Linked DNA regions of Homo sapiens: regions 1, 2, 3, 5, 6 and 7 are each reported to be linked to region 4. The links are microRNA targets in miRTarBase. Many come from high-throughput screens and were not tested one by one. Region 4 holds a microRNA gene; each other region holds the end of a gene's coding sequence.

Region 1 (4,393 bases), not on the chromosome of region 4:
AAGTGTGATCATTGTTGAACTTCAGCTCCAGTGTCTCTCCAGAATAAGACATTGGCATTCAAATGTCTATATCTTGTTACTTACAAAATAAAAAACAGATTAATTAGTGGCTTTTAAATTGTAGTTATATCAGTGTATATACACGAGGGGAACTGTATAAAGACATACTAAAGGGAACAGATTAAAATAAGTATTATTAATAAAATTTGGTGTGCCAGACTGACTACTTCCCTTGCTAATCACAGAGATTAGTAATGATTAAATTAATATCTTCAGGAATATTTTGGGATAGGGTTGCCTTAAAACATTTTACTTGGCTTATTCAATTTCTAAAGCACTTACGTTGTGCCAGGTTCCACTCAAGTAAATTATCTCTGCCTTCAAGGAGCTTGCAGTATAGTGAGAAAAGCCTGCCAAGTAAATCAGCAGGTATACTAAATAGGTAGTCATTTAGGCACTCAATAAATGTTGACTAATTTTTCCAGTTTCCTATTACTGAGGAAAACCTCCATACACTGAGGCAGAAACTTGTGTCAGTTGGAGGAAAATAGACTTGAGTAGTCTTTGGTCCAGGTAAAATGGGTCAGTGACACTGAAACAGTAGAGTAGGAGTCAAAAAACCTTTTCTGTGAAGTGCTAGAACATTTTAGACTTTGTTGGCTATGGTCTGTATTGCAACTATAGTACACAACTCTGCCGTTGATAGTGTGTAAGGAGCCATATACAATATGTAAACAAATCAACATGACTGTGTTTCAACAAGGCCTGATTTGTTAAGTTTCATATATAGTCATATGTCACTTAATGACAGGGATATGTTCTGAGACATGTCACTTGGCAATTTCATCATTGTGTGAAAATCATGATGTAGTTACACAAACCTAGATGGTATACCCTATGGTATCCTATATGGGATAGCCTATTGCTCCTAACCTACAAACCTGTATGGCATATTACTGTACTGATTACTGTAGGCGGTTGTAACACAGTGCTAAGTATTTGTGTATCTAAACATATCTAAACATAGAAAAGGTACAGTAAAAATATATATATAGATATATATAAGATATAAAATGGTACACCTATTTAGGACATTTACCATGAACAAGTTGGCAGGACTGGAAGCTGGCTCTGGGTGAGTCAGTAAGTGGTTAGTGAATGTGAAGGCCATGATATTACTGTGCACTACTGTAGACTTTTATAAACACTATATACTTAGGCTACATAAAGTAATTTCACTATGATGTTACCATGGCTGTGTCCCCAGGCAATAGGAATTTTTCAGCTCCATTGTAATCTTACGGGATCATCATCGTATATTTGGCCATTGTTGACCAAAAGTTATGCAGCACATCATTATAATTTTGATGTGTCACAAAACATTACTCATTTGATTTCCCCCACCCCCGCCAACCATTTAAAAAAGTTTGCCGGCTAGGTGCGGTGGCTCATGCCTGTAATCCTAGCATTTTGGGAGGACGAGGCGGGTGGATCACTCGATGTCAGGAGTTTGAGACCAGCCTGGCCAACATGGTAAAACGCCGTCTCTACTAAAAATACAAAAACTTAGCTGGGTGTAACGGCGGATGCCTGTAATCCCAGCTACTTGGGAGGCTGAGGCAGGAGAATCGCTTGAACCTGGGAGGCGGAAGTTGCAGTGAGCCGAGATTGCACCACTGCAGTTCAGCCTGGATGATGAGAGTGAGACTCCATCGCAAAAAAAAAAAAAAAAAAAGAAAAGAAAATTAGCCAGGTGTGGTGGCAAGTGCCTTTAATCCCACCTCAGGAGGCTGAGGCAGGAGAATCGCTTGAACCTGGGAGGCAGAGGTTGCAGTGAGCCAAGATCGCGCCACTGCACTCCAGCCTGGGTGACAGAACAAGACTGTCTCAAAAAAAAAAAAAGAGAAGAAAAACTGCCTACAGGCCATAGTTAACCTGCAATAGAGAAGAAAGGGAAGTAGGGCAGTGCATGACTGGCCTTAGGTTTTTTCTTTCCAAGTTTATTTTCTTGTGCTTCAGCTACTAGAAAGGTTTAATTCAGGGATAAGTCCCAATTGAGTAGTTCAAGATGATCAGAGACTTTGCTATTTTCCCCTAAGTTCTATTCCATAATCTAAAATGTTCTGTTTCTAGTGCCAGTTCTTATGCTAAGCAGGTTACGTGGAATATATCACTTAACTCAAAAAGCCCTGTTAAGCCAGGACTGTTATCTCCATTTAACAGATGAGAAAATGGAGGTTTATGGTCTGTTCTCACACTGCTACGAAGAAATACCCCAAACTGGGTAATTATTATAAAGGAAAGAGGTTTAATGGACTCAGTTCCGCATTGCTGGTGAGGCCTCAGGACACTTACACAATCATGGCAGAAAAAGGAGAAGCAGGCACCTTTTTCACAGGGCGGCAGGATGAAAATGACTGCCAGCAGTGGAAATGCCAGACGCTTATAAAACCTTCAGATCTCATGAGACCGGCTCACTATCACAGGAACAGCATGGAGGAAACCGCCCCCATGATCCAGTTACCTCCACCTGGTCCCACCCTTGACACGTGGGGATTGCTACAATTCAAGGTTAGATTTGGGTGAGGACACAGAGCCATACCATATCAGCCCAGATCAAGTAGTGACAGAGTAGGGATTTGAATACAGGTTATAGTCACTATTGTGTTATTTCTTGACTTTTGTACTATTAAAAAACTGTAGCCAGTGAGGCTTCTACCCTTAGTACCCAGAACTCCTTTTAGGTATAGCAATTGTTTTTAGGTAAATTTATATTGAGTTTAACACCTGTGTGATTAAAGACAACTTTCCAATGTAGTATCTGTAGCCATGTCCCCTAATGGCTATTAGTGTTCATGGTTAGTGTGTTGAAGATGAGCCAGGTACATAACGCGGCACATTTTCTGCAGGTCAGCAGTAAGGTTTCAAGGTACAGTTATGGAGGAAAGAAGAAAATGACACATTGATAACACAGGTCTTTATTCCCTTTTGAATGAGACAGTTTTTAAAAGTTGATTTATAAATACAAAAATACATTCTCCAAAGATAGTATTTCCAAACTGTTATATACCCATCTACTCCCAACATGGATATAAGTTTTTTAAAAAAATAGTTGTATATAACATACATATCTGCCCCAGTGTTACTTCACAGGCCTATGCCCTACGGGAACTCCACTCTCCCAGCCCCACTTTTTCTCTTGGTTCTCCCACATTCTTATTCTCCCACATCCCTACCCACGTTTGAGCTGGAAAGGATGTCCCTACCCTAGGCATGAGGTATATTTTATTCTGGGCACCACACATTTGCCCCATAGATAACAATACACGTGATGATGTCACTAGTACTACCTTTCTAGTATTTACATACTTAAAAGTAGTAACTAGAACAGTTATCACTGGAACTAAGAATTTTCCCCACAGAGGTGAACAGACCAAGAACTAAAATTTCAGGAAACCTGTTTAATTTCTTTTGTATCTTTGAAAAGTTAGTTTTATATCTAAGATTTCTTCACATAGGTTATAATTCATCTGTATGTTCAAGCTTTTATGTAAAAATATATAGTGCCTTCAGTTTTAACATAGTTTCACATGTTCTCAGAACTGCTAAATTCAGTGCTACCAGTAAGGCTTAATAAGTAGTTCATTGACCCTGTAAGATAGGAGCACTCAGCTCTGTCACAATTTGTTGTTAAACACATCACTCAATGTAAGTATAAAAATATTTATTGATAAAAAATAAACTTATAATTCAGCAACTTGAAGTTCCAGGAGCATTTCTGTTGTTCCTATGTCAGTAAGCCCTTGATTTTTCACATTAAGGAGGGAAAGCTAAGCATGTTACTTGAAGTAATTTTTTCCCAGTCACCATCATGTTGATCCTGTGCACAACGATATATGCGAGGAACTCTTAAGCTTAGTCTTTGATTCTGACAGAGGCATTCTATGGACTGCTGCATTGAAAAGGGCTTGCTGTTTTCATCCAACACCTCTGTGTTGTGTGGTCTTGCTGTGAAAAAGAAGACAATACCTTGTTTTCAGTTTAAGTAGGACCACTGGAGGATGCAATTATCGGGACTGTTTTTAAAACCTAAAAGCACGTTTCTTTAGCTGAACTCTGAAGGGACAGTAAAGATACAGTATTTTATAAATCAATATTCTGCATCAAAAAGCATCCCAACACTTTGAGAGGCCAAGGTGGGAGGATCGCACGAGCCCAGGAGTTTGGGACTAGCCCTGGCAACATAGTGAGACCCTGTCTCTACCAAAAATTTTAAAAAGCTGGGTGTGGTGGCACATGCCTGTAGCCCTAGCTACTCAGGAGGCTGAGGTGGTAAGACTGCTTGAGTCTGGGAGGTGAAGGCTACAGTGAGCTGTGGTCGTGCCACTACACT
Region 2 (4,189 bases), not on the chromosome of region 4:
ATCCTGGACCCACCCCGTGCTGGCTTGCGTGAGTGGCTTTTGCTTAAGGAGGTGGCACGGGAACGAGGACACATGGGGTGGCTCACCATGTTATGCACTCTCTGGCTGTGGGGACCCAGCTGGTGTTTGCCTCCTCAGATTCCAAGGTGATCCTGGCCATCCGGAGAGCTAAGAACCTCAGGCGGCTGCTGTACGTCTCATGCAACCCCCGGGCAGCCATGGGCAACTTTGTGGAGTGAGTGTCTGCAGGGGCCTGGGTGGGGGCTAGGCCTGCTACCAAGCCCCCAGCTCCCACAGGAGCCCCTGATTAGCCTATCGGCTGACCTTAGCGCCCCCCTTTTCCCCCCACAGCCTCTGCAGAGCCCCATCTAACCGGGTGAAGGGCATTCCCTTCCGGCCGGTCAAGGCTGTGGCAGTGGACCTGTTCCCGCAGACCCCGCACTGTGAGATGCTCATCCTGTTTGAGAGGGTGGAGCACCCCAATGGCACAGGGGTCTTGGGGCCCCACAGCCCTCCAGCTCAACCCACACCAGGACCCCCAGATAACACCCTACAAGAAACTGGGACCTTCCCCTCATCCTAGGCCCAGGACCCATTATGGGGACAGGAGCTGAAGGGCTCCCAGGGCCCCAGGGGCGGGGAAGGCATGGCTTGCTGGCCAGGATATTCAGAGGTAGGCAGCCAAAGGGCACAGAACCCTGTGCCCCACCAGGATTGGCCTGCTGCTAGGGGCCAGGGGCCCTGACCAGGAAGACAGGTGGGTTCCTGTAGCCTGTTGCCCATCCCCAGGGCCTTTGTGGACTAGCCAAGGCTGTGAGGGCCAGAATAAACAACTGCTCAACAAAGGGTGTTTCTGTGATGAGAGCCAGGGGTCTGAACACAGGGCCTGGGTGCCAGGGAAAGGGCCAAACTAGGCCTAGGCAGCTCTGCAAGCCTCTCTGCATGGCTGGGGGAGTCAGGGCAGAGCTTACTTTAAAAAAGAATGTTCGATTTGATACTTAAACTTGAGGAGAGGCAGAGAGAGGTCTGGGAACTGCACCAGCTGGGGGCATGGGGTGGAGAACACTGGGCAGAGTTGGCCCCTCTGTGGCCAGCCTGGCCCTCAGCCCAGCAGAGAGGGCATCAACCAAGGAAGGGGCCATGCTGGGGTGCTGCTCAGCTGTTACAAAGGCAGGGTCCAGCCTGCAGGGAGGCCCCAGGAGGGGATCTGGCCAGTCAAGGGTCCACAGGGTGCCAGCCTCTCACCCTCAGAATAAAGACATCAGCCATTCCCTTCTGGACAGTTTGCTTTATGTGTTCAGACAATCAAGGCTCGCCTTCCAGGCACAGCCCAGTGCCCTGGATGGCATCAGCACAGGCTCCCCTGCCCCGGCCTTGAAGCATGGCTGTGTGCACGATTCATACCCATGCTTGGCAGACGGGTGGGGGGGGGGGGGGGGCGCACAGAGACCACAAGAGTATGGCAGCACCTGCTGTGGTGGTGCCTGGGAACAGCAAGACACAGCGAGGCTCCCCAACCTTTAGGGGAACACATGTGCACGAAGCTTTGGTTCACAGGCGCATCTGGCTGGCTAAGGGCAACAGTCACAGTCAAATGACTATTCACAGCTGCAGACAGGAGGCAAGACAGAAGCAAGTGTCTAATTATAGCAATTTGAGTTGAGGGTTTCTTTTTTAAAGGTCAACAGAAGCCAACCTTGGTCACACAGGTAGTGAGGGAAGGATATGTTGTGGGCGGCCCACAGGCCAACATTGTTTTCCTGACAGAAAAAAAAAAAAAAGCGCCATCAGTACCGCCTGTAGGGGGCATGGTGGGGGACAGACACGGCAGAACGCTGGACTCTTGCTTCAGATGGCGCACCACAAGCACACGGCACTCTGCACAGGTGCCAGTCCACCACCAGGGCCAGCCTTTGAGCACACCCTGGTGCCTCAGACTCCGGCAGGAACACATTTCCATCGCACACCCACCCATAGGGGCCACCAGTCGAGAAGCAAGCTGGGCACCAGGCAGCTGCCTTTGACATCCAGAGAAACCGCTGTCACAGGCAACAGCTCTGGATCAAGAATGGGCTACACTGAAGGCCCTTGCTTCCTGTTTCAACAAGTCCACTTGCTAAAATGCATGATTCCAAATCTACCTTCTACTCTCACTGTGAAAGTCTTTCAAAATGCTAAAATATCACAAAAGCTTTAAAAATCAATGGGTGGACATATGGACTCGACTGCAAAAAATCTTTGTAAAAAACTGTTGCCGGAGGCCAGGAAAGGCAGAGAGGGCCTCAGTGTCCAAAGAGGCGCTTTTAGGGAATTAAGACTTCATCAGAAAAAGGGACCCTAGGAGGCCAGGGTAACTCCAGGAGGTGGCAGGACGTCATCCTTGCTGGCATCGTGTCCAGACTGGAGAGGGACCACCTTGATGGTTTGCCTCCAATCCCAGAAAGCTAGTTCTGATGCTAAAATTCTGTTTAAGCCAAAAAGGTTTAAAATATTCCTTTCTCTTCTACCTTTTCAAAGAAGGGGAAACACAGAGGGTGGGTGAGGGCAGGGCACCATGTGCACCTCCTGACCAGGTCCCTGTAGCAGCCCTGCAGGCGCCCTGGGCACATGGGCCACCTGGCATCACGGGCCAGCCACAGGACTCAGCCATCCCCTCTCATCTGTCATCCAAGCATCATGTGTCGTCAGTGCGTATTACATACTAAAATTCATGAAAGCCTTCATAAAAAGAGCCTGCAGCAGGTGCACAGAAGCAGGGTCCACCACTGTCCACAGTCACCAGCTGCCACTGGTGCAGTCGCTGAGTCCATCCATTCAGGCCTGGAGCTTTCCAGGGAGAGCCGCTGCTCCACATGTGTGCTGTGTGGCCATGGCTGTCCCTGTACACTAAAGCCTCCACCCTAAGGCCGGGCCCACAGGTTGGCCACAGGGAAGGAGCGTGGGTTGGAGGCCTGACACTGTGGTGCACGATGCATGACTGCTGGTCTCCTCAGAAGTGCGGCTGGCGGCCCCCGCGCCCTGGCCCGTGCCACCTCCCTCACACGTCCACGGTGCACAGGGGCTCACCGCCAGGCTGGGCGGACGCCACAATGGACATCTTGGGCTTCTTTCGAGTCTCCTCCTGAAAGAACAACAAAGGTCAGGGGTACCAGTGAGGTGGGCTTGGCAGAGGCTCGGGAAGACACAAGGTGGAGGGAGAGCCCAGCAGATCATGCCAGGAGGCCCTGGAGCCCCAACGGCACCAGTGCTTGTGATGCCAGGCTAGGAGGAGCAGGGAAGGCCTGGGGCAGGCCAGCCTGAGATTGCAGAGGCCCCCTGCATTGCCATCAGAGTACAACATGTGCAGCCTCCCTGGCAATCAGGACATGTACCAAGAAGTGAAGAATTTTGGGTGCAGTTACAGGGACAGGCCAGGCCTCCCCATTGGGTGTTCCTCCCTTGCCCAGCTTTTGCTTGCCCCAGGCCCAGCCAGGAGCACTATGTCCTGCACCTGCTGCCCTTGAGCCCCACAGCCCCTCTTCCGACCAGGGGCAAACCAGGCAGTCCCACTGGCTCCAGGAGGCCAAGCCCCACCCCAGGGAGCAGCAAGGGACCTGCTGGCCTGGGCGGCAGCAGATACCTCCTGGGGCTCTCACCCAGGCCAGGGGACTGCCACACTTAAGAAAGCTCCCACCCAGAAGGCCCAGGTGGGCAGGTCACGCCGTGGCCAGGCAGACGATGCCTGAAGACAGAAGACACCACTGCCAGCCTGACAGGCCCCTCTTTGAGTGGGGTTCCCAAGGTGGCTTTAGGAGGCTTCATCAGGACCAAGCCCTACAGATTCAACCCTGGCAGGTGCACTGACCTACCTCCAAACACCCAGGGAGGACATGGGACTCAGGTGGCCCACCAAGACTGTGACCTTCATGGTCCACCAACAGGCTGGCCTGCCAGCTCTCTAACAACAGAACCAAAACTGAAGTGATTTATAAAACTATCACACATGTCGAAGCTCAAAGAAAAGCCTGTATCTGATTTTGGAAGGAGGATCCAAGCATTTCCAAGGTGTCAGCTCAGGCACGGGTCCTGGGGTCTGCTGTCCCTCCACAGGTGCCACAGGAATGGCCGTGGCCCGGCAGCCCTCCCGCTAGGGTGGCACTCACCCTTTCCTCAGCTAGCCTCTTCATCTCCTCTTGGAGCTTGCTGAGGA
Region 3 (4,393 bases), not on the chromosome of region 4:
AAAATTCTTTCATAAGTAAACAGTACTTAATGCAATGTTTCAAACTGTGTTTTGTACATTCTCGGTCCATCTTTGATGATGGTTTACTTTGAGAAATCATCTAAATTTGTTGCTTTTTAAATTAAAGGAAACAACAATCCAGAAAATGGAAAGGATGAAAAAAATGTAAGTAACAGAAAGGGGCAACAGAAATTCATTTCTCTATAGGGAATTGTATTGGATTACAGTATATATAGAATGTGCATGTGTGTTTCAAACCTTAAAGGTCTCTCAATCAGGTGTGGAATTTCCTTCAGGACTCCACTGGATAATAAATCCACCTACAGTTATGTGTTTGTGAGATGAGTCACTGTTTTAGTTTCCAACAAGCGATTTAAAACTTGTTGGAATTGTTAATGGAATTAACTGCAGAGAGAATACAAAGATATTTTTGGTTGGTAACTAATCAAGAGTATTATCTATTTTTGATAACTGATTTATCAAAATATTAAATAATATATATAGATGGATGGTTTGGAGACATTTTCAGTGTTGTGAAAATATCACTGGTGTTTTTCGGCAAGTTATTGATGAGATACTAAAAATGATGTTTTTGTCTAGTACAAATGGTGTGATTTTTCTAAAGAGCAGTTCAAAGGAAATATGAAATGAAATTGCATATAAGATGATTATGCAGCCTACTACTATAGAAAATTATAATATTATTTAGAAATGCAAAAAGTACTTAACTTACACTTCAAGAATATGACTCATAATCGACTCCTCTTTGTCTTCCCTCTGGTCATACTTAAGTTTATTCATAGTAACTGTACTTATAGATAAGAAAAATATTCAAATTTATTTTAGGCTAAAAAGCATAATTTCAACAACTAAAATGCTATGCTTTATTATGAATTATTGATTTACTTAATATATTATTTATTATATTTCAGGTTTGAAGAAACTGCAGAGTTACTGAAATGTCCAAATCACTACTTGTAGGATTTTCTACATGAACTTTTTTCTAGGACTTTGGTTACTATACATATTGTATATTTTAAGAATTCTTTATACAATTTTAATATACTGCAATACTGCAGTTTTTGACAATTTGGATTCCATTTGGTATATGAATTTTTGCATTCATTATTGAATAACTCTTTTAATATTTTTGAGCAATGATTATACTGCTTTACCTTGTGTCACTTTTTTTTTTTTTAGGAAAAACTCATGTTCCAGTATATTTCTCTTACAGAGTGAAGTCATTACAGCACTGTATTTCTGTGTTGACATTTGTTGGCAGTGTGCTAAGTAATGTTTTTTAAAGCACAGGCTTGAGGACTATGGTTTACATCCTGTTGGAAACATTCCAAATGGGACTTGTGTATTATACCCAGGAGGCTCTCATATATACCATCTTGGCATCTGTACTGATGAATAAGTTATAATGAACAGTTAAAAATGCTCATTGAAAATTAAATAAAACAAAAAGGCAGTTATTTCATGCTTGGTCAAAAACATCAATACCTTTCCAATTAACACTGAGAAATTAAGGTTAAGATTCTCCTTTTGTACTGGGAAACAGGCTGGAGGACTATGGTCCTCAAGTTTAGACCAAGAGGACTATGGTCTCAAGGTTCACCATGAGAAATGTGTTGAACATTTTAGTATGCTCTATTGTATAATTTTTTTGGAGGGGGGGATGGAGTTTCGCTGTTGTTGCCCAGGCTGGAGTGCAATAGCACGATCTTGGCTCACCGCAACCTCTGCCTACCGGGTTCAAGTGATTCTTGTGCCTCAGCCTCCTGAGTAGCTGGGATTATAGGCATGCACCACCATGCCCAGCTAATTTTGTATTTTTATTAGAGACAGGGTTTCTCCGTGTTGGTCAGGCTGGTCTCAAACTCCTGACCTCAGGTGATCTGCCTGTCTTGGCCTCCGGCGTAACACTTTTTAAGACCAGTGTAACAGAAAGAGAATGTAGCCATTCTAGCCACCGTTAAAAGATACACAGTGAGGTGTTGTGTTTTGTTTTTTTAATGATGAAAAGTTACACATTTTTTGGAGAGAAAAGTCTTAGCTGAAGGTAAATCAATGGAAAAATGAAATTTATTTTTAATATTACTACTATATGAATTATCTTTTTTTAAACTTGTAGATAAAAGTGTTCCAGTAATCAGAAAATCCTCAAGAAAATTGACTTCATTATTTGGAAGGAAAATTAGTATTTTTTTTAATATTATATGGACCATCTGATTATATTTTATTTATTCATCTATTTATGGTATGTATGTATAATTCTATATTACACTGTCAAATATAAAATATTGTTATATGAGTAGAAATCACTTAAATTTTTTTTGTGTTTGTGAATTTGAAACAGTGTAAGAAATCACTTTTAAGAAAACATTTTTAGAATTCCTTTGTTTTTTTTTTTTTTCTTTTTGAAACAGGGTCTCACTCTATTGCCCAGGCTGGAGTGCACTGGCGTGATCTCGGCTCACTGCACCTTCTGCCTACCGAGTTCAAGCGATTCTTGTGCTTCAGCCTCCTGAGTAGCTGGGACTATAGGCCTGTACCGTCATGCCTGGCTAATTTTTGTATTTTTGTAGAGACAGGGTTTCACCATGTTGCCCAGTCTGTTCTCAAACTCGTGAGCTAAAGCTACTCGCCCACCTGGATGTCCCAAAGTGCTAGATTCCATGGGTGAGTCACCATGCTTGGCCACATTTTTAGTATTCTAATAAACAGTTGGTCATCAGAACTTTAAAATGGTAGCCTACAGAAACATACAATTTTGAATTTAACAGAGTTTCAGTAAATATTTCCAGAATTAATGAAGCATGTTAGCTTTAATTTTTTCAATTGTGAGAGAAGTACATTTATAAAAATTAAGAGGTTAAGAGGTTATAGTTATAAGGGAAAAAACTTCTGTATCGATTAACTCCTAAAATATCAGTACCAGCATGGAATTATAGCACCACCTTGTGGTTAACATGCCAGTATTTTACCTTTTGTTAAAACAAGTGATTTCCCATCAAACAGGATAATATTTTTTCCCTTTTGAAAAATTCAATTTTAAAAAGAAACATTTTTGAAGTTTTCTTATGGAAGATAGAAAAAAAGTTAAGTCTCTTTCTACCCTTTCTTTTTTTCTTTATATAGTGCAGATATACACACAGAGAAGGGACTTAAAACATTTCTAATCTCCTAGTTTATATACAGTGTGCAAAATATAAGTAAGTATATATTGAAAATATAAAATATTTCATATATGTTATCAGGTGGAAATTTAGAATCCAAATTTTCTTAAACTTTAATAACTTGTCTAACAACTCTCTAATAGGGACTAAAAATCAACTCAATATATCATACATTTACACTTACAAAGAGTCTTTATCTAGACAACATAATTTTTGGAAAAATAAAGCAAATTCAACTTTATTGGAGTTATTGGACAGATCAGCAAATTGTTATTTTAAAAAGTTTTCTTGTTTAGGCAATTTGGTAAGTGGTTTCTAGTTATAAACTAGCCACTGTTGATTAACTTGAGAAGGTGAAGCAGGGGAGTTCTGAAGAGATTACCTAGAGCTACATAACCCTAAGTTAAGTAAAATTTTCACTTTCATTCTTTTCATTCTCTCATAAACTGGTTGAAAAAACACTGTACTACCAACAAAGGTGTCAGTTGCTTGTGCTGCCCTGTCTATGTTATGCTCTGAATAGGTCTCGGTAAAGATTATATGGAAATACTATAAAGAATACATAAGGTAAAATACTAGTCAGAAAGGGTTCAGAAGAAGTTAGCATCAACTGTATGAAAATTCTAGGTAAAGCTAAGTACTATTGAGTTGGAAAAAAGTAATTCTATCATGTTTGCTTGTTTTCCTCTACTGTTTTTAATGTGATGTTGTAATATATTTTAAAAATAAAACTTGAAAACGTTGGGACTTTGTTTCATGCCATTCATTACTCATAACTTTATATAATTGATACACTCTTCAGGAAGCATAAAAATTAATATAACCTTCTCAATTTTATAAACTACAACACTTTTTGAGCTCAAATAACATTGTAACTTTGATTTTTACTTTTTAACAGTCCCCAGGTTTGTCTCCTTTCTTTGAAACTGAAGGCATCAAACTGATCAGCGTGGAAGGAAGTGATGTTTATCTTAAGTCCTAAAGAGTGAACAGAATATAGCCAGGGAAGATGGTTTACGCAAAAGGACTAGCATAAACAAAGGCTTGAAAGGAAGAGCATTTGAAAGAAATTCACTAGGGCTAGCATACTGAGTGTGCTCTGTGTGTGTGTGTGTGTGTATGTGTGTGTGTGTGGCTAGAGGTCAGTTGACACAGGCCCAAGGGGCAGCTTGTATCTTATTTACTGAACCATTTAAGCAGCAGAATATGAT
Region 4 (4,393 bases):
TGTCTGGGCACCAGTAGTGGCTCTGAGGCCACATCTGGGCCTCGGCTGGCAGAGGTCTGGGCTGTCTTGGGCACAAATGCCAATGCCAACAGGCCCAGCACTGATCTCACACGATTCCAGCAAGAGAGCCTAGATTTTTGCACATCTCTGAGAAAACTGTCATACCACACCGCACAGCTAACCTTAGGCGCAACCAGCCACTAACTCCTCTCCCTGCCCAGGCGAAGTCCCCTTTGCTGCAGTGGGGCAGCATTTCAGGGACACGGAGAAAGAAGTTTGCTTTGTGGTTCCGTAAACTCAGACGGATGATATAAAATCAGAAACCTTATTTTAAAGCTTGGTAAATATGTGCATATGTCCCCTACAACTGGGGACGCTGGAAAGGCAGCATCTGAACACTGGCTGCTTTGAAAAGAGGTCATGAGAAGGGCAGAAGGGGTCAGCTGGGCATGGGGTGATGGAGGGAACCCCAAGTCCACTCCTAAATTCTTTCAACGTCCATCTCTTTCCCTGAAAAGTCGGCTTGGCTACTAGGCCTGAAAAGTATGTTGTTTATATCATGTTTGTGAGCGTCAGGGTTTATTTTCACCTGCTCCAGATACAAGAAGCAAAAAGAACTCTACATTTTTCTGTGTTTGGGGTGCTCAGGCGAGAAAGAAAATGCCTGCTTAAAGTAACTGATCAGCAATGTTTTGTTTGTACACGCACTTTATTCTGGTGAGTGATTTTAAGTACCAAGTTTGCCTTAACTTTTCACTGCACTCATTTTTATCCTCATGGCTAAAATAGCTGTATTTGCTCCACAATCAAAATTAAAGGAGGGTGAGCTGATCGTTAGGAGGCTATAGTTGATCTGGCAAGAATTTCCATCTTTCTGTTCATAACGTTAAGTTGGGGGGTTGCTGGGAAGGGAAACAGAGAGAGTGTTCCCTTGGAGGGACTTTTCCAACTTTCATTGGTTTGAATCACCAACATATATTTTATTTTTAAGGAAGTATCATATTCATTGCAGAACCACCTCTAAATATTTTACTCCTGGCCATACCGTATTCTTTTCTATTGAAACATCTTTTTTGCCTCTCTGAGATCAGCTATGGCTTGGGGATTGCTAAGAACAAAATTCAAAGTTGCTTGTTTTTTGTTTTTTTTTTTCTTAAATCCACACTTCTTTGGGGGTTAGCGGGGGTGGGGAGGGAACAGCAACTGCTTAATGAAGTTTCTCACACAGAGGCAAAAAGAGAAAAGCCAAAATATATTCAGTGTATCCAGCAGTTCCATGCTGAATTTTTTTTTTCCTTATTGGTTGAGGGGGGTGTGTAGGAGGGTGGTGGGAAGGATCTGAAAAGAAGCTGTGATTCTTTGCTGAATTAATGATGACTTCTCACTGCAAAATGCTGATTTATAATCTCTTCACCATACTAGACTGTTTCCAGACTCAGAGGGGGGTTAAAGTTTGTTAAATGTATTCATAATTACATGCACAGTTTCAGACGGCTGAATATAAGTAATGCTTGTGCTGTTGCGAATGCTCACCATTAAAGCAGAAATTGTTTCACATTTAGCACTAAATTCTGTCTGATTTTGCACACTTAACAATTCAGTAATTTTAACATTCGGCTTCGTCGCCTCCATTATAGCTCAGTATCTTGGAGAAACAGTCAGTGTTCCGGCCTCGTTAATTCATGTAAAACACCCTATTTGTAGAAGTATCATTAAAGGCTAATTTGATGAGATATCCTTATTTAGCAAAGCAAATAGGATTTGACAGTCAGCTCCGGGTGGCGATTTAGCAAAGCACAAACACAATTCACAACGTGACAATTTCCCATCCACGCGCCTCGCTGGAATTGTGGACTCCTGAAAATTGTGCTGTTTCATCGTGTCCCATACTAAAGAGAAAGAACTCTGGAAGTAAAGAACTGTTTTTGCCAAGGCAGCACAAATGTCATCTGTGTGTACATGTGCCATGTCTTTCAAATCCTAAATCTTGTATCAAGAACGCTGTGTTCAAAGGTTTTTTCCAGGTACAGCTCACTTTTCTATTCCCTGCTATGTAGACTTAATTTAAATCTAGACTTGCAAATAACTTAGGATGTGTGAAAGTCTATATAGGTTACAACTATATAGGGTGTGTGTGTGTGTGTGTGTACACACAACTGAAGGTTAATGTTCTGCGACGGGGATTTATACACACTACCCTTGCTTTAGAGACTTCCCCTGAACGTATTATCCAGCCTTCTATAAAACGCCTGGCTGGGTGCAGTGGCTCATGCCTGTAATCCCAGCACTTTGGGAGGCTGAGGTGGGCGGATCACGAGGTCAGGAGATCGAGACCATCCTGGCTAACACGGTGAAACCCCGTCTCTACTAAAAATACAAAAAAATTAGCCGGGCGTGGTGGCGGGCGCCTGTAATCCCAGCTACTCGGGAGGCTGAGGCAGGAGAATCGCCTGAACCCGGGAAGCAGAGGTTGCAGTGAGCCAAGATCGCGCCACTGCACTCCAGCCTGGTCAGAGCCTGGACAGAGCGAGATTCTGTCCCCAAAAAACAAACAAACAAACAAACAAAACAAAACAGAACAAAAAGAACGCCTTCAACAGCAAAGAGTTGCAAAGAAATGTTGCAATTCCAGGTGGAAGCAAACAGCTGGTTTCTCCTAATTTAGCAAACGTAAAGACAAATCTAATGTCGTTACAATTCATCATTTCAGGAGCGCCTTATTTGGGGGCTTCAAACACTTTGCCACAATTGACATCCTACTAATTCCTTTCCAATCCAATACTGTCCCTTAAACCACTGTGGGGGTGGTCAGGGGGAATGTACTTTCTCCTCCTTGTATCGTTTTTCGGCCTCCCAAGGAGAGAAGCCCTTGGAAAACACAGTAGGTTCGGCAAACTGAGAACACACACTTATAAGAATACCGCCCTCGAAGGGACCTTTTAGTTTTATGGAAAGTAGCAAACCTCCCCCTCTTTCCCCGCCCCCCCGCCAGCCGGGTTTTGGACGCGCTCCCTGGGGGTGGTAGCTCTCTGCCCTCACCCTCCCGAGACTGCCGGGGCCTGAGTCCCTCGCTGTCCAGAATGACCCCAAAAGCGGGACTTTGAGGGCCAGTTGGATAAAACATAAACTCATCTCGCCCTCAAAACCCCGATTCTGAGACCACAGCCTCCAAAAGCCTCTTTTCCCAAGAAGTGAGTCCCCATTCACGGCTGACAGCACCGGGGCAGGCCGCCTTTGAGGCAAGAGTTTGGAGAACCGGGATCACTGAAGGAATCGTTACTGGGTGTTCCCTCAGGGCGGCGGTTCATCTCACCAAAATGCCAGGGGGTCGCTGTGGGAGGAGGGGACATTTGCCACACCATGGCTGAGGGCAAGAGGATCGCTTGATCCCGGGGTGTCTCTTCCCTCCCGGAGCAATCACCAATCTCGCCCAGCAAACAGGCCTAAAAGCTTCCCGGACAACACGAGGGGTGCCCCAAACGTCCCTTAGCAGCGGATAAATCGGGTGTCCGAGGTGCCTCGTACAGTTCCCCCCACCCCATCTCCAGCTAAATAAAGTTTGGTTATTTGTGTCCTTAATCGTCTCTCATTAAAGTCAAATTTGCTGCGCGCCCAAGTTGGGGGAAATGATTTCCATTTTAATAGCTTAATTAGCCTCTAGGTTCTGGAAAGGCCACTCCCCCACGCACCTTTTCTCCTCATTTTAACCCCCCTCCCTTTTTCACAACTTCTCCTAAAAATAAATTATAAATATGGATGTGTCCTCAGAGGACATAAGCGGCGCATTCCAACGCTCCGCTTGGTGGGGATTGGAAGCAAAGAGAAACCAGAAACGCCACTCCCCCCACCCCCAAATCAAAATGCCTTTTTCTTTTTTTTTCTAACTTCTTTTTCCTAACTTGGTGTTGTCTCGGGCACAGACACCCCGCTCCGCACCCCGGAACCTAGTTTTTTTGCCCCCGTCCTGCAGAAGCTAAAGCCAACGCGCCAGGGCTGCCTGCTTCTCGGGGGGAGGGAGCTGACAACTTTAGGGGGCGGCGGTAACTCTCTGGGGACGGTGGTTCCCGGCTAGTCCGGGATCCCCGGGGCCCGGCCCCCGCAGGCGCCGCCGCCCATGCCAGCGGGGCTCGGGCGCACGTGGAGCGGCGGGCGCGGCCGGCCTGCTCCGCGCGCGGCATTGAGATCGGGGTCACGCAGCGAGTCAGTTTCCCGAGCGGGCTTTCCGGGGTGGGGGCGGGGACGCGGACGCTCCACCGCCTCGTCAATTTCCAAGCCCAGGCACTAGGGAGGCTGGGGGCGGCCTCGCCCCCTTCCTACCTCCCGGCTTCACACGCCCCTCTGGGGAGCGGGGGAGGGGTCCGAGGGGGAGCCGGGGTGGCGGCAGCGGCGGCAA
Region 5 (4,000 bases), not on the chromosome of region 4:
GCCTGCAGGTGAGACGCACCCGGTTCTCATAGGCCCTTGAGCCAGGGGAAGCAGTAGGAGGGAATTGAGTTGAGGTGAGGACTGAGGCTGTTGCCACACAAACTGTGCTCAGTTTCTGCAGGTGAGACGGTGGCAGAGATGCCTGTTTTTGCCAATGTCAGACATTTACCTACTTAGTGACACCTGATTCAGGTGACTGTGACAATGTTTTCAGTCCTTTACCAACCTGCGGGGAGAGACAAGAACCCAGAAACAGGCTCTGTTGGGGAGAATACGGTGAAGTGTTCCTGATGATTGAGTTCCTGGCGTCCAGGTGCTTGTCGCATTGTCCTCGTGTTCACGAAGGTGGATGGTGCTTGTTTTATAGCTAAGGAAACACATTTGGAAGGTCAGTCATTGTCCAGGGTACCTGCCTAGACAATCACAGTGCTGGGACCCCTGCCTGGCACCCTCTGGCTCTGAGCCTCGCACTCCTGACCGCAGCTCAGTCCCACCCACCTGCTCAGCAAGGCGTCCCCAGCAAGGCACCCAGAACCCGCATGTGTAGAGAGACTCCTCGGCAGGGCTGATGGAGCGACAGGTCGGGGTTTCTCTAACAAGCACTTTCCTGGAAACTTCATTTTAACATGTTCCCATCTCCCTCAGAAAAAGGGCATCGAGAAGAACCTGGGCATCGGCAAAGTCTCCTCTTTTGAGGAGAAGATGATCTCGGATGCCATCCCCGAGCTGAAGGCCTCCATCAAGAAGGGGGAAGATTTCGTGAAGACCCTGAAGTGAGCCGCTGTGACGGGTGGCCAGTTTCCTTAATTTATGAAGGCATCATGTCACTGCAAAGCCGTTGCAGATAAACTTTGTATTTTAATTTGCTTTGGTGATGATTACTGTATTGACATCATCATGCCTTCCAAATTGTGGGTGGCTCTGTGGGCGCATCAATAAAAGCCGTCCTTGATTTTATTTTTCAAGGTCCCTTCTGTAAATGCTGTGCTTTCTTCCCTGTGAGAGCCAACTTTAGAGTGTCTGCTACCTCTTCATTACCAATCAGAATTAGATGATGTTTAACTGTTAGACTGAAGCGTGACGCTTTCATCAGTAGCTTCAAGAAAGTCTAAATTGTTAATTTATGGAATTGGACACAGTATTCAGTTTACCCGTACATGCTCCTCCCGCCCCTCCTGTTGGCACCCTTGCATCGCCCAGGCCTGATTCCTCCTGGGGGTAGTTCACCCCCACGGGTTCATAGTTCAGCGGCGAATGCCAGGCAGCTGTTTTCTGGCTGAGCAAACAGCACCTTTCTCATTGAGCTTCCTCTACTGACCTCTGTCCCCCTTGGGATTTCATCTTCTGACCGAACCCTGATGTTCAGTGGCAGAGACAGCCCATAGCCAGAACTGTGGGTAGACCAGGGTTGGGGTGTGCGGTTTGGGACAGCCCAAACCCCAGCCGCTGTGTCAAGGCCTAGGACGCCATGCTGCCATCAAAAGGGGGTTCCAGGTTTCCATCAGTGGCCTAAAGAAGGGACTTCTTGTTGTACTGAGGAGTGCGGAATTAAAGAGATTTGACTCCCTTTAGTATTGGGGGCAGTCCGTTCCCCAGACACTGTGGCCTCTGAAGTGGAAACTGAAAGCTGCATACCTGGGAAAGAACTTTCTAGGAATAGGCAATGGCCTTCAGTGGAAGAGGGAGGGCTGGAGGTGTGCCCAGTACTTGGATGTTCATCTGTCCACAACAGCTTTTTGTTTTTTTAAAAAAGCTAAAATGGAAATGGATTTTATCATAAAGGATGACATCGTTTTCTTCTACAATTAATACATGTTCATTGTATAAAACCCAAAAAGCAGCTAAAAAATAAAGCGGGAAAGGAACTACTGGTAATACTTGTCCTCTCTTGCATATTTCATAGGTTGAGAGAATGAAGCCTGCTCTGCAGGTTATCTGCTACTGTAACAATCCCAGCCCTCTCCACTCTGGTGGCTTTTAGGCTATTTCTGTTCCTATCTCCCGACGCTGGGGGTTGACAGGACTCAGCTGGGTGGTTACATGCCCACAGCTCCCACTGCAGTCACTGGAGGCTTGGCTGGACTGGAGCACGCGAGGCTGGTGTTTGGGAGATGCCCGGACAGCTGGCCTTTTCCCCGAGGTCTTGGGCCTCTCATTCTTCACAACGCATCTACAGCAAGGTCCATATGTTTGTTGAATGACTCAGTTCCCACAAGCAAAAGCAGAAGCTGCCAGGCTCTAAGGCTTGGGCTGAGAACTGGCCCAGCTTCGCTTGCGCTGCATTCTCTAGGTTAGAGTAAGTTACAAGGCCCCCAATGACATGGGCAGGAACCACACAAGGGTGTGGCTGCGGGAGACCTGACTCTGATGGCCATTTATGGAGATGAGCTGCCCCCCACTTCTTTCACTGTGTGTATTTGCCCTTGTCACTTTTCTAAATTTTTCTTTAGAGACAGGGTCTCTGTCGCACAGGCTGGAGTGCAGTGGTGTGATCATGGCTCACTGCAGCCTCCAACCCCTGGGCTCAAGCGATCCTCCCACCTCAGCCTCCCCAGTAGCTGGGACTATGGGTGCCTGCCACCACGCCCGGCTAATTTTATAATTTTTTGTAGAGACCGGGGTGGGGGTGACCGGGCGCGGTGGCTCACGCCTGTAATCCCAGCACTTTGGGAGGCCGAGGCAGGCAGATCACGAGGTCAGGAGATCGAGACCATCCTGGCTAACACGGTGAAACCCCTTCTCTACTAAAAATACAAAAAATTAGCTGGGCGTGGTGGCGGGTGCCTATAGTCCCACCTCCTCAGGAGGCTGAGGCAGGAGAATGGCATGAACCTGGGGGGCGAAGCTTGCAGTGAGCCAAGATTGCACCACTGCACTCCAGCCTGGGCGACAGAGCCAGACTCCGTCTCAAAAAAAAAAAAAAAAACAAGATATCAGGGTGGGAGGACTTGCTCTGTTGCCCAGGCTGGTCCTCCTGGCCTCAATCAATCCTCCCACCTCGGCCTCCCAAAGTGTTGGGATTACACGCATGAGCCACTGTGCCCTGCCATTCTTTTCACAGCTGGATAACCTTGAGGGTGGATAATTCGGTGTTTTTGTTTTTCACTGCTGTAGAGAGCAGAACTCTGAGCGTGGTACTTTAGCATTGTTTCCTCCTGGTGGTTCTATATGCAGAGCACTATGCTGGCTGTATTTGGGGTACATTTGCCATTTTATGGGATCCTTGCAACAACCCTGACAGGACCTGGGACTCAAGCTAAGTCAGGTTGTGTCTTGGTTGAGGGTGGTCACTACCTCTCTCCATAAACCAGGGGCTACCCCTTAAGAACCTCCCAGAGAGTTCACTCAGGATACTCCCACTAAGGTGGGAGGACTGCTTGAGCCCAGGAGCTTGAGGTTGCTGTGAGCTGTGACTGTGCCACTACACTCCAGCCTGGGAGACAGAGAGAGACCTGTCCCAAAAAAAAAAAAAAAAAAAAAAAAAAGCGCATTTCTGGTTCCATCTCAGAAATTCAGCTCTAGCATCCTAAAGGGAGGACCTGGAATGTAGAATATCCTAGATTCTTTCAGATGATGATGAAGGGGCCTGGAGATACTGGCCGTCCCTGGGCTATTCACCCTCTAGCTCCTGCCTTCCAGGGCTAAAGACGAGTCAGGTACTGAGAATCCACAAGACAAACACAGAGGAAGTACCGTGGGACTCCAGAGGAGGGCAAGGTTACTTCATGTCTTGGCAGAGCATCAAGGAGGACTTCCCCTATCAAGATCTCTAGGAGGAGGGAAAAGGAGGAGGAGGAGATGGCATACGCTCTGGCTCTGCAGGCTGGGCAGGATTTCAACCAGCAGGGAGGGTGGGATGGGCGTCATAGGCAGCTGCCGGAGCAGACAGGCTGAAGAGCTTGTGGATGGCAGGAACAGGGCGTCCCAGGAGCTGAGCAGGATGGTGACACGGTGGCCAAGGCTGCTCACACTCCACCAAGGACGGGTTGGCAGGGGGGTC
Region 6 (4,368 bases), not on the chromosome of region 4:
AAATTGGGGTTGGTGGGGGAACATGGGTTTGGATGGAAGTGGACACTAGTTAATGAAAACAAGAGGATCTTTACGAAAACAGTGACTAAATCAGATGACTCCAGGAACTACTGAGACATCCTCAATCCTGAAACATCTCTACATTTTCCCTCTCCTTTCCAAGTTGTTATCACCGTTGTCTTCCTCACCCTGCTCTCGGTCGTGATCTTGATCTTCTTTTACCTGTACAAGAACAAAGGCAGCTACGTCACCTATGAACCTACAGAAGGTGAGCCCAGTGCCATCGTCCAGATGGAGAGTGACTTGGCCAAGGGCAGCGAGAAAGAGGAATATTTCATCTAATGACTCCCAGGCCCCAAGGAGCTTATTCCTGGCTCCATCGCTAACACGTTGACTGCTTATTATGGGAAAGTTTTCTCTGAAGCCAGGGAGAAGCATTGATTGATGTGGGCAAATCCAAGCTCCAGCCAGGTCGCAGTCCCAAATGCCGACATCACTGACTCCAGGGACCAGGGACATGGAGAAAGCTGTTTATGATATCTTTAACCAGGCCCTCTTACTAGAGCTGGTGTTTGTGACTGGCCAACAAGATGTGGCTATGCCAGGGGACATCTGAGTATGTGCCCAGTCATCTTTTTTCACAGGTTGAAGGGAGAGAAAAGATTTTGAGTTAAGGTCATTGGCTGCTCTACTCTGTCCCCTACCTGGTCACCTAGTGATAGCCCCAGTGGAGATACTGTCCATACAAGGTCTTCCCAGAGGCTGGATACCACAGTAAAAGGCCAGGCCAGGAGGGGTAGGAGACTATGGAGATCTTACCTCCTGATAAATGTGCTACACCCCCTAATCTGAGCCCTTCCTTTCCGTGTTCCCCAACAACCTCATGCTTACGTGATTTTTATTCAAATTAAAAATTTTCATTGCTACAGAAATCAGATTCTCATGTGCAAGAAGTAACTACATTTTGACTTATTTTTGCTTAAACATTTTTGACATTTTCTTTTCCCTATTTAACGCCTTTACATATGTTCTCTTCCAAGCAATAAGAACCCTAGGAAAGTTCTAGAAGTTTGCAGAACTATCTCAGGGATTTGAGACAAAGATGGTGCAGGAAAGCTTGTTCCAGGGGAACATCATTAGAAACATACCCTGGGAGGGCCGGGTTCGGTGGCTCACGCCTGTGATCCCAGCACTTTGGGAGGCCGAGGCAGGCGGATCACAAGGTTAGGAGATCGAGACCATCCTGGCTAACACGGTGAAACCCCGTCTCTACTAAAAATATATAAAAAAAATAGCTGGGCGTGGTGGCGGGCGCCCATAGTCCCAGCTGCTTGGGAGGCTGAGGCAGGAGAATGGCTTGAACCCAGGAGGCGGAGCTTGCAGTGAGCTGAGATTGCACCACTATACTCCAGCCTGGGCAACAGAGTGAGACTCCGTCTCAAAAAAAAAAAAAAAAAAAAAAGTACCCTGGGAGATGAGTTGGTTCAAGCCTCCATCCTGGCAAGGGCCAGAATTTCCCAGAATCCCTTCTACATATATACAGAAGGAACCAGAAAAAATCAACCTACCACCTTTCCCAGTGTATCCTCAGAATCAAGCCAAGAAGCTTCTTGGATTTTAGTCTCAAGATAAGTTGTGTTTAAAAGGCACATTTTGGTATAAATTATTAGCTCATCAGATATTGTTCACTTTGGAATTAAAGCTAGATCTCCTTTGAAGTCTTAATGTATTGCCTCTGTTGTCCAAGCTCAAACCCAACCAAGTTAAGATCAAGAGCTGAGGAATCTGGCTGGGTGCAGTGACTCACTGCCTGTTATCCCAATACTTTGGGAGGCTGAGGCAGACAGATCACTTGAGGTCAGGAGTTTGAGACCAGCGTGGCCAACGCAGTGAAGCCGTCTCTACTAAAAGTACAGAAATGAACCAGGTGTTGTAGCAGGTGCCTGTAATCCCAGCTACTCAGGAGGCTGAGACAGGAGAATCACTTGAACCCGGGAGGTGGAGGTTGCAGTGAGCAGACACTGCCACTGCACTCCAGCCCGGGTGACAGAGGGAGACCCTGTCTCAAAAAATAAATAAAAGAGCTGAGGAATCTATCTTGGCAACCTAGATTCTATGAGTTTTCAGTATTTCTCCACATAGAACATTGGAGAAACTAAAGGTCATCCTCAACGTATACAAATTGCTATACCAGAACCTTTTCTTCAAGCCAAACTTTAGAGCAAGTTAGGAGAATCAATAGTTCCCTCATTTCTAAGTTTAGGTCCGAAATTCCAAAATTTGTAAGAGGTTGGAGTAAAATGATGAAAAGTTGAACATCTGGAATGGAATTCATGAAATGATCAAGTCTTAGGCTTGTACTCCTGCCTTTATTTCAAAGCGTCATCAAAGGAAACAGAGCAGCAGCAGCACCTAGCTGAATTCTAGATGGGATATAAATAAAATATATATAGAAGAAATCTAAAAACAAGCTAAGTAAAGAATCCTTGCAGTGAGGTGTAATGCAACTTCATCACTTTATTCAAATCTTCAAAATAGTCTTTATTCTACATTTTTAGTATAAAAATTCCACAAGTTAAGTGCACCACAGTGTAGAGAGAGACATACAACGCTGAACTTCCATAACAGTCAATGGTACAGTCAAACATCACATGTACAGAACACACAATTTAGATGAACTGAAATTATAAGATAAAATAAAATAAAATCCAATTTCAGAAAACAAAAATCAAAACATTAAGGATCCCTGAAATATTCTTAAACCCTAATGAGATTTCACTGGACTCAAGTCATTTTGTAGTGAGACATTCACAATATGACCCTATTAACCCAGTCTAGGAATTCTGGGGAGCCGAATGAGTGGCCGCATCAGACACTCTGACAAAAAATGGTAACCAGTTTTTGATCTGAAAACTCCTCTTAATTTAGCTCTGAACACATCAATCAAGCTTTTGAAATGCATCCTCCTCCTTGCCCCTCATATTTTAAACCAACTGTTGTTCACAGTACAGTTTGCACGACATCTTTGTTCAAACATAGCTCAGTTTTTCTGGCACCAAAGCAAATTTGGGTTAGGTTCGTGTATGCAGAGACAACCTATGAGGAGGGCCCATAAGGCACCCTCCACTTTTGCCTGAGGAGATACGAAAGCAGAAGTAATGGCATCTGTACTTGGGGCACAGAGAGGGTTTCAGAGGATCCTTGTGAAACACTAGTTAAAAGATGACGAGTGGGGAGAAGTGCGAGGAAAGAAGGAAATTAGTCTGACTGGCTTTCTGTCCTGCACCATTGATTCAATGGAGACTGGCGGGAGGAAATGGAAGACTAGGGTTGGAGATGGGATGGGTGGGGCAAGGGATGGAAAGGAAAAGGCAGACAACTAATGCGTTCCATTTATAACAAGTAATATATATCAAAGACTTAAAGGAGATTAAAGACCAATCAGAATAATTTGGCAACTTTAATTCTTAGGAAGATCAAAGTTCCCTCCAAACCTAATTTGATGTTTTATTACTAAAAGCAAAGACCAGTATGGTACAGTATTACTCCAGAGAAATTAAAGGAAAATCCTTAGGGCGGCTTCACCCACATTCATTTTATGAATGGATACCTCCCCTACCTCAAAATGCTTTAGGGAGGTACTGCTACCATTACATGGTTCCTTATTAAATTTGAAAAGTGCCTGAAAGTTTGGGCACCAGAAAGACACCCCAACAACATGTGTCTAAACTGCAACTTCAGGTTAATATGACTAAAGCAGTTACATTGTGAGAAGTGCTGAAGGTATGTGATGTCTTTCCCGGCACAGAGGTGGCCTTGGTTCCTCACCAGATGGTGTAGCCACCATCTGAACCACCCATGAAGAAGTTCCCCTTCCGCTGAGTTACGAGGACGTTGGCTCCCTGCATGACTGCAAGCTGAGCAGCATTGGGAGGGCATCCAGGAGGTGGAGGCTGAAAGGAAATGACATGATAGAATGGGCACAGGGCAGCTAATATAAGCGAAGGGGACATAGGGGAAGCAGAGGCCTGTTAGGATGAGGCAATGTGCTAACCAGCTGCGTTTTAAGGAGCTAGTTCCGCCACCAATTTGAGTTCTAAAGTAGGTCTATACTTTATGTGAACCCAAAGATACAAACAGGAAAGGGAGCCTACCACTCATTCAAAGGGTTCCAGCTCTAAGATGAAGCCTATGGCTACCTTCTGAACATGAACAGACCAGACCAACAGTCATTTTGAGGGTAGAGAACCACTGTCCTACTCACATTCCCAAAACAGGGACAGGGTGCCAGTCCATGTATGAATCCCACATGGTCCCTACATAGTTTTTAATTTTTAATTTTTTTTTTTTTTAATTTTTTTGAGATAG
Region 7 (4,393 bases), not on the chromosome of region 4:
GGAGTACCCCACCCAGGGAGCCTCAGATGCCGAGTTTCCAGACGTGGACTTGGCATGAGTGCACTGGAAAGCAATGGACCACTCGGCACAGAGCAGCAGTCCCTCCAGGGCCTGAGCACGGGGGTGGTGAGCTGAGGCCCCAAGAGGCACAGTGCCCTGCTGTACACCTATCAGATGGGTGCCGGAGGGACCAAAATGTCAGAATGGACCACAGGCCTCAGGGCTGATTGGCTAGGGAGGGAGGCAGAAGAGGGGTGAGTCTAGGCAGCAGGTGCGCGGGCAGGGAGCCCACGGGTGCTTGGGGTACGGCAGAGTGACAGGCTCTCTTCTGTGCCTTGCAGGTGGCCTCAGCCCCGAGTCCAAGAAGATCCTGACACCCGCCCTCAAGAAGCGGGCCCGGGCTGGCCGTGGGGAGGCCACCAGGCAGGAGGAGAGCGCCGAGCGGAGCGAGCCCTCACAGCATGTGGTGCTCAGCCTGACTTTCAAGCGTTATGTCTTCGACACCCACAAGCGCATGGTTCAGTCTCCCTGAGTGTCCGGTGACCTCCCCCAGGGCCTCCTTGCCCAGCCCAGTCCAGGCTGCTGTGCCAAATCCCAACCAGCCACGCCTCAGCCTCTCCCAGTCTCTCCCTGCAGTCCTGCAGCAGCAGCCCCCACCCCCAAGCTTGGTGCTGAGCCCTGGTGAGGAGCTGAGGGGGATGGGTTGCTGGGGCCAGGAGGGTCTCTCCTCCAGCCCCTGCACACTCCCACCCAGGACAGCCCCCAGCCCAACTAGGAAAGGGCCATGGGCAGAGGGCTGGTAGCCAGTATCTTCCACTGCCCCATCTGTTGGCCACCTGCAGGCCAGTCTCAACCCTCCCCCAGGTGGGCAGGCACTTGATGGCTACAAATAAATGTCCCGTGGCCCCAGCCCACTCTACTGGTGTCTCTCTCTCTGTGACTTCACTAGGTCCGCCGCCCTCCCCAGCTGTGTTCCAAGGGGAATCTCAGAAATCCCAAGAGTTCCTGCCCAGGTCGGGGCCAGGGAAGGGACCCAAACTCAGAGTCTGTAGGCTGTGGGAGTCTGCAGAGTGTCTGCGCTTCTCAACCCCACTAGGTGGCTCCTGGGGCGCTCTGGGCCTTCAGGGAGAATGGGGATTCTCTGGGCAGCTGGGTCCAGGGAAGGTACCCACAGGGAAGTTGGGGAATAGCAGGGTGCCTGGCCAGAGCATCAGGCAGAGCAGGTGGAGGCTTGTTCCTCCACCCCAACACGAGGAGTCCCTCAGCCCCTGCCCTCAAGTTTGAGAACCACATACTTCCCAGAAAGTGGAGGCTAGCATGGTGAGGGCACCCTGCAGAGCCATCTGCCATCCCCTGCACCCACAGACCACCCTGCCTTGTAGCCCCAGGCTGTGGGATACTCAGGAAGGGGTGAATGGTGGAGTCAACAGACTGAGGGGAAATCAAAGCTTTTAGAGACATTTGCAGGATGAACAGATGTTCAAACGTTCCTTTATTTGGTCTCCAGACAGACGCAGAGGCCTCCCTTTTATCCCAGTAATCGGTGCATTATGCTTTAATTTGCAAATGGCATTAAAAATATTAACAGGGGCAGGTTTCGATCAAATGACTTGGGCCTGTTAAGCCCCAGAGCCGTGTGTGTGTGTGTGTGTGTGTGTCCCGTGTGCACGTGGTGGGTGGGGAACAGGCAGTTAATTAAATACACCAACAGCAGAGCAAAGCCCCCGAGCTGCAAGGATACCAGCGATGGCGACTGGCCCAGCCACCCTTCGTCAACCTTGGCCCAGACCCAGGCAGCAGGGCTGGAGCAGCAGTCAAGGGCAACAGCTGAGAGCCATGGGGAAGTGGGGTTCCCAGTTCAGTCCCCTGAGGGGATTGGCCCTGGAGGAACGTGAGAGAGAGTGTGGCCCCGGTGAGCGTGGCCTCCGCGGCTGCTGCAGGCTGCGGGTGCCAGGGCGGCTTGTCTGCACTGTGAATCAGGACAGCCCTCTGCCTAGGAGCCGACTCCCCCTCTACTGCCGCTGCCTGAGCAGACACTTCCTGGGACTGCAGTGGCCCCTCTCCCTGGGGCCTGACCCCACTGTGTGCTGTGCCCCGACCCCACTGTGTGCTGTGCCCCACGGCCTCCTCACCCTACCTGGCCCTGCAGACTGTTTCACCAGGAAGGCAGTGCCACTTCACTGAGGCCACTCCGCCCAGGAAACTGGCAGCAGCTTTGAGCCCACACCAGGCTCCCTGCTAGCCTGCTGGTCCCCCAGGGGAGGGCAGCCCAAGAAGGGAGCAGACCTCCAGGAGGGCTTCAGTCAGCACCGAGCTGGGCTCACAGCCCCCAGCCTGTCAGTCCCTGGGGGCAGGAGAGGCCCCTCTGAGCACTTGCCAGTGCTGTCCAGGCTGGTCACCTCCCAGCACAGATCTGGGAGCTGCTGGTGAGGGCCAGCACTGGGTCCGAACCCAGCTCCAAGGACTCACTTCTTAGGCGAGGAAACCTCCCTCCTCCTCAGTGTGGGGCTGAGCTGGGAGCCAGGCCACACCCTCCCTGACCGCTCCCTCCCCAGCCCCCTCAGAGTCCCTGCACATTGGGACAGAAAGCTCTGAGCTCAGCCCCAGGTCCTGGCCTGCATGGGCAGGGTGACCTTGGGTGTGTCACTGTCCCTTTCTAAATGAGGGGTGATGTGACCCAGTGGAACCACTGTGCCAAGCATGGGGTTCCATGGAAGCTGTCCATGGGAGCTTCCATGGGAGCCATGGGAGCTGGCTCTGGGGCCAGATCAGGTGTGGAGGAAAGATGAGCACACAGGGCGAATGTGGCTGCCGCCACCAGGGCACAGATTCAGGCCTCTCCCTGCCTGCGGTGTGAGCTTGGGCAAGTTCCCTAACCTCATGCCTCAGTGTCCCCATGTATAAAATGGAAGAAGAAAAGCAGCCATGCCAGAGGGCTGCCCTGGGGGTGGGAGACTTGCCAGGCACACTGCTGACCCCACATTACCTGCGGCCCTAGGGTGGGCCCCACACATCTCCCACTGAGAGGCAAAAGGCCCAGAACCCCTCAGGAAGTGACACCAGCCCCAAATAAGCCGTTTTTCCAGGAACTCTGTGCAGGCGTCCACCTCCACCCCACCTCTCACCTCCCTACTGGTCTGAAGACCGTGCTCCTCAAAGTCCCGGGAAGGAGGGGGCTCGGGTGGAGGAACTGAGGCACAGAGGCACAGAAGGGAGGAGGGGCAGCCCAGGGCGACTCCCAGGAGCCTCTGAGCGCCCTGAGTGTGTAATGAGGCGGACCTGCTCTGTGTGGCCTGAAAACGCCCAGCCGACTGCCCCAGGAGAGGCCTCTATCAGGCCCGGCATCGGTGGAAACCCGAGCGTCCATTAGTGGGGTCGGGCCAGGGCGCGCAGCCTTTGAAGGTGCAGCCTAGCCGGGACGGTGGGCAGGAGCTGGTGCCAGCACCCGCTTCTGGCTGAGGCCAAGGTGTGGGCATGCACGTCCCCTTCCCTGGCTCCCCCGTCCCCCAGGATGCCTTGGGCAACCCCAGGCCCGCGTGTTTTATGTAGGAGAGGGTTCCAGTGGGCCAAGCTCACTGCAGCCACCGACACAGGTAAACTCACCGAATCTGCTCATCTACCCACAGCAGTGATGTGGCAGCAGCATGCCGGTTTCCCAGGGGTGTGGGCAGGGCAGGGCTTGGCTGCCTGCAGCTGCCCCAGATAGAGCTGGAGTTTGAGTCCAGGCTCCAGGTTCTTCCAGAGTCCCTTGCCCACCAGTGCTTCAGGCGTGTCCTTGGAAAAGAGGTGCCCTCTGGGGTCCTCTGTGGGCTGATGGGTGGGGTGGGGCATGGGGCAGCAGTGCCCTGGGCCCCCTCACCTGCCTGCCCACATGGAGTGAGGTCATGGACCGACATCCTGCCATGGGCTGGGGCAGGAGGGGCAGCGGTGATTGGCAGGCCCCCGACCAGCAGGGCTAATGCACAAACGAAGAGATAAGGCTTATCTGGAAATGTCCCTGGAATCGAGACTCTGATGGAAACAGGCTTCTGGGTTAATATATTTTCAATAGATAACGTCTCGTAAACGGGAAGCCCTGGGGGCCTGGGGCAGGAGAAGGGGCAGCTTCCGTGCTCCCAGGCCTCCTGCCCTGGCCATGCATGTGCATGTGCGCACACGGGCTTTGGTGCACCAGGCATCTCCAAGCCTGTGCTGACGTCTGGGTGTGCATCTGTGCACATGGATCCGCGATGTCTCAGACGTGTCTGCATGTGCTCCGTGTGTGTTTTGGGAGGGTTGCGGTGTTTGTCAGTGTGTGTATCTCTTTGGGTGTGGGAGTGGGGTGAAGGAGGATCGAGTCCAGTGTACACAGGGTGGTGGCAAGTTCCCTAACCTCATGTCTCAGTGTCCCCAT

What was found. Region 4 holds the annotated microRNA hsa-miR-193b-3p (AACUGGCCCUCAAAGUCCCGCU, at 3,092-3,113, opposite strand). A microRNA usually pairs through its seed, bases 2 to 8, with sites in the 3' UTR of a target mRNA and lowers its output. Matches are read on the target gene's strand: a 7mer-m8 pairs with bases 2 to 8, a 7mer-A1 pairs with bases 2 to 7 and ends in A, and an 8mer does both.
Region 1: miRTarBase lists BORA as a target of hsa-miR-193b-3p. The part of its 3' UTR that is shown has no 7-base or 8-base seed match.
Region 2: the mRNA of TRMT2A is a reported target of hsa-miR-193b-3p. Seed matches in the 3' UTR shown: 7mer-m8 at 1,210-1,216.
Region 3: the mRNA of CEP44 is a reported target of hsa-miR-193b-3p. Seed matches in the 3' UTR shown: 7mer-A1 at 2,978-2,984.
Region 5: miRTarBase lists MDH2 as a target of hsa-miR-193b-3p. Seed matches in the 3' UTR shown: 7mer-m8 at 793-799.
Region 6: the mRNA of DAZAP2 is a reported target of hsa-miR-193b-3p. The part of its 3' UTR that is shown has no 7-base or 8-base seed match.
Region 7: miRTarBase lists EEFSEC as a target of hsa-miR-193b-3p. Seed matches in the 3' UTR shown: 7mer-A1 at 803-809 and 7mer-m8 at 842-848.

The regions. Positions count from the first base shown.
Region 1 is chr13:72,754,766-72,759,158 of GRCh38, reverse strand. It overlaps BORA (BORA aurora kinase A activator), which reads right to left. Exons shown (of 12, transcript NM_024808.5): 12 at 2,963-4,008. The coding sequence ends at 3,943. DIS3 (DIS3 exosome endoribonuclease and 3''-5'' exoribonuclease) reads left to right here. Exons shown (of 21, transcript NM_014953.5): 21 at 1-4,393. Among named protein-coding and RNA genes, the nearest start is that of DIS3, 25 kb to the left of the region's middle.
Region 2 is chr22:20,108,957-20,113,145 of GRCh38, reverse strand. It overlaps TRMT2A (tRNA methyltransferase 2A), which reads left to right. Exons shown (of 12, transcript NM_022727.6): 10 at 1-28; 11 at 139-235; 12 at 352-1,271. The coding sequence ends at 583. DGCR8 (DGCR8 microprocessor complex subunit) reads right to left here. Exons shown (of 14, transcript NM_022720.7): 13 at 4,143-4,189; 14 at 1,274-3,121. The coding sequence ends at 3,038. Among named protein-coding and RNA genes, the nearest start is that of MIR6816, 3.7 kb to the left of the region's middle. RefSeq lists an enhancer at 669-1,168.
Region 3 is chr4:174,316,403-174,320,795 of GRCh38, forward strand. CEP44 (centrosomal protein 44) reads left to right here. Exons shown (of 12, transcript NM_001040157.3): 11 at 128-165; 12 at 933-3,926. The coding sequence ends at 981. Among named protein-coding and RNA genes, the nearest start is that of CEP44, 35 kb to the left of the region's middle.
Region 4 is chr16:14,302,737-14,307,129 of GRCh38, reverse strand. It overlaps MIR193B (microRNA 193b), which reads right to left and starts at 3,163; the gene lies at 3,081-3,163. The region is part of intron 1 of MIR193BHG (MIR193b-365a host gene); the gene reads right to left. RefSeq lists an enhancer at 1-660 and silencers at 3,023-3,072, 4,026-4,265, 4,171-4,331.
Region 5 is chr7:76,065,634-76,069,633 of GRCh38, forward strand. MDH2 (malate dehydrogenase 2) reads left to right here. Exons shown (of 9, transcript NM_005918.4): 9 at 646-1,875. The coding sequence ends at 777. Among named protein-coding and RNA genes, the nearest start is that of MDH2, 20 kb to the left of the region's middle.
Region 6 is chr12:51,241,915-51,246,282 of GRCh38, reverse strand. DAZAP2 (DAZ associated protein 2) reads right to left here. Exons shown (of 4, transcript NM_014764.4): 4 at 2,350-3,953. The coding sequence ends at 3,825. SMAGP (small cell adhesion glycoprotein) reads left to right here. Exons shown (of 4, transcript NM_001031628.2): 4 at 164-1,725. The coding sequence ends at 342. Among named protein-coding and RNA genes, the nearest start is that of DAZAP2, 5.3 kb to the right of the region's middle.
Region 7 is chr3:128,407,728-128,412,120 of GRCh38, forward strand. It overlaps EEFSEC (eukaryotic elongation factor, selenocysteine-tRNA specific), which reads left to right. Exons shown (of 7, transcript NM_021937.5): 7 at 342-919. The coding sequence ends at 532. Among named protein-coding and RNA genes, the nearest start is that of DNAJB8-AS1, 54 kb to the right of the region's middle. RefSeq lists enhancers at 1-388, 1,570-2,218 and a cis regulatory region at 3,875-4,060.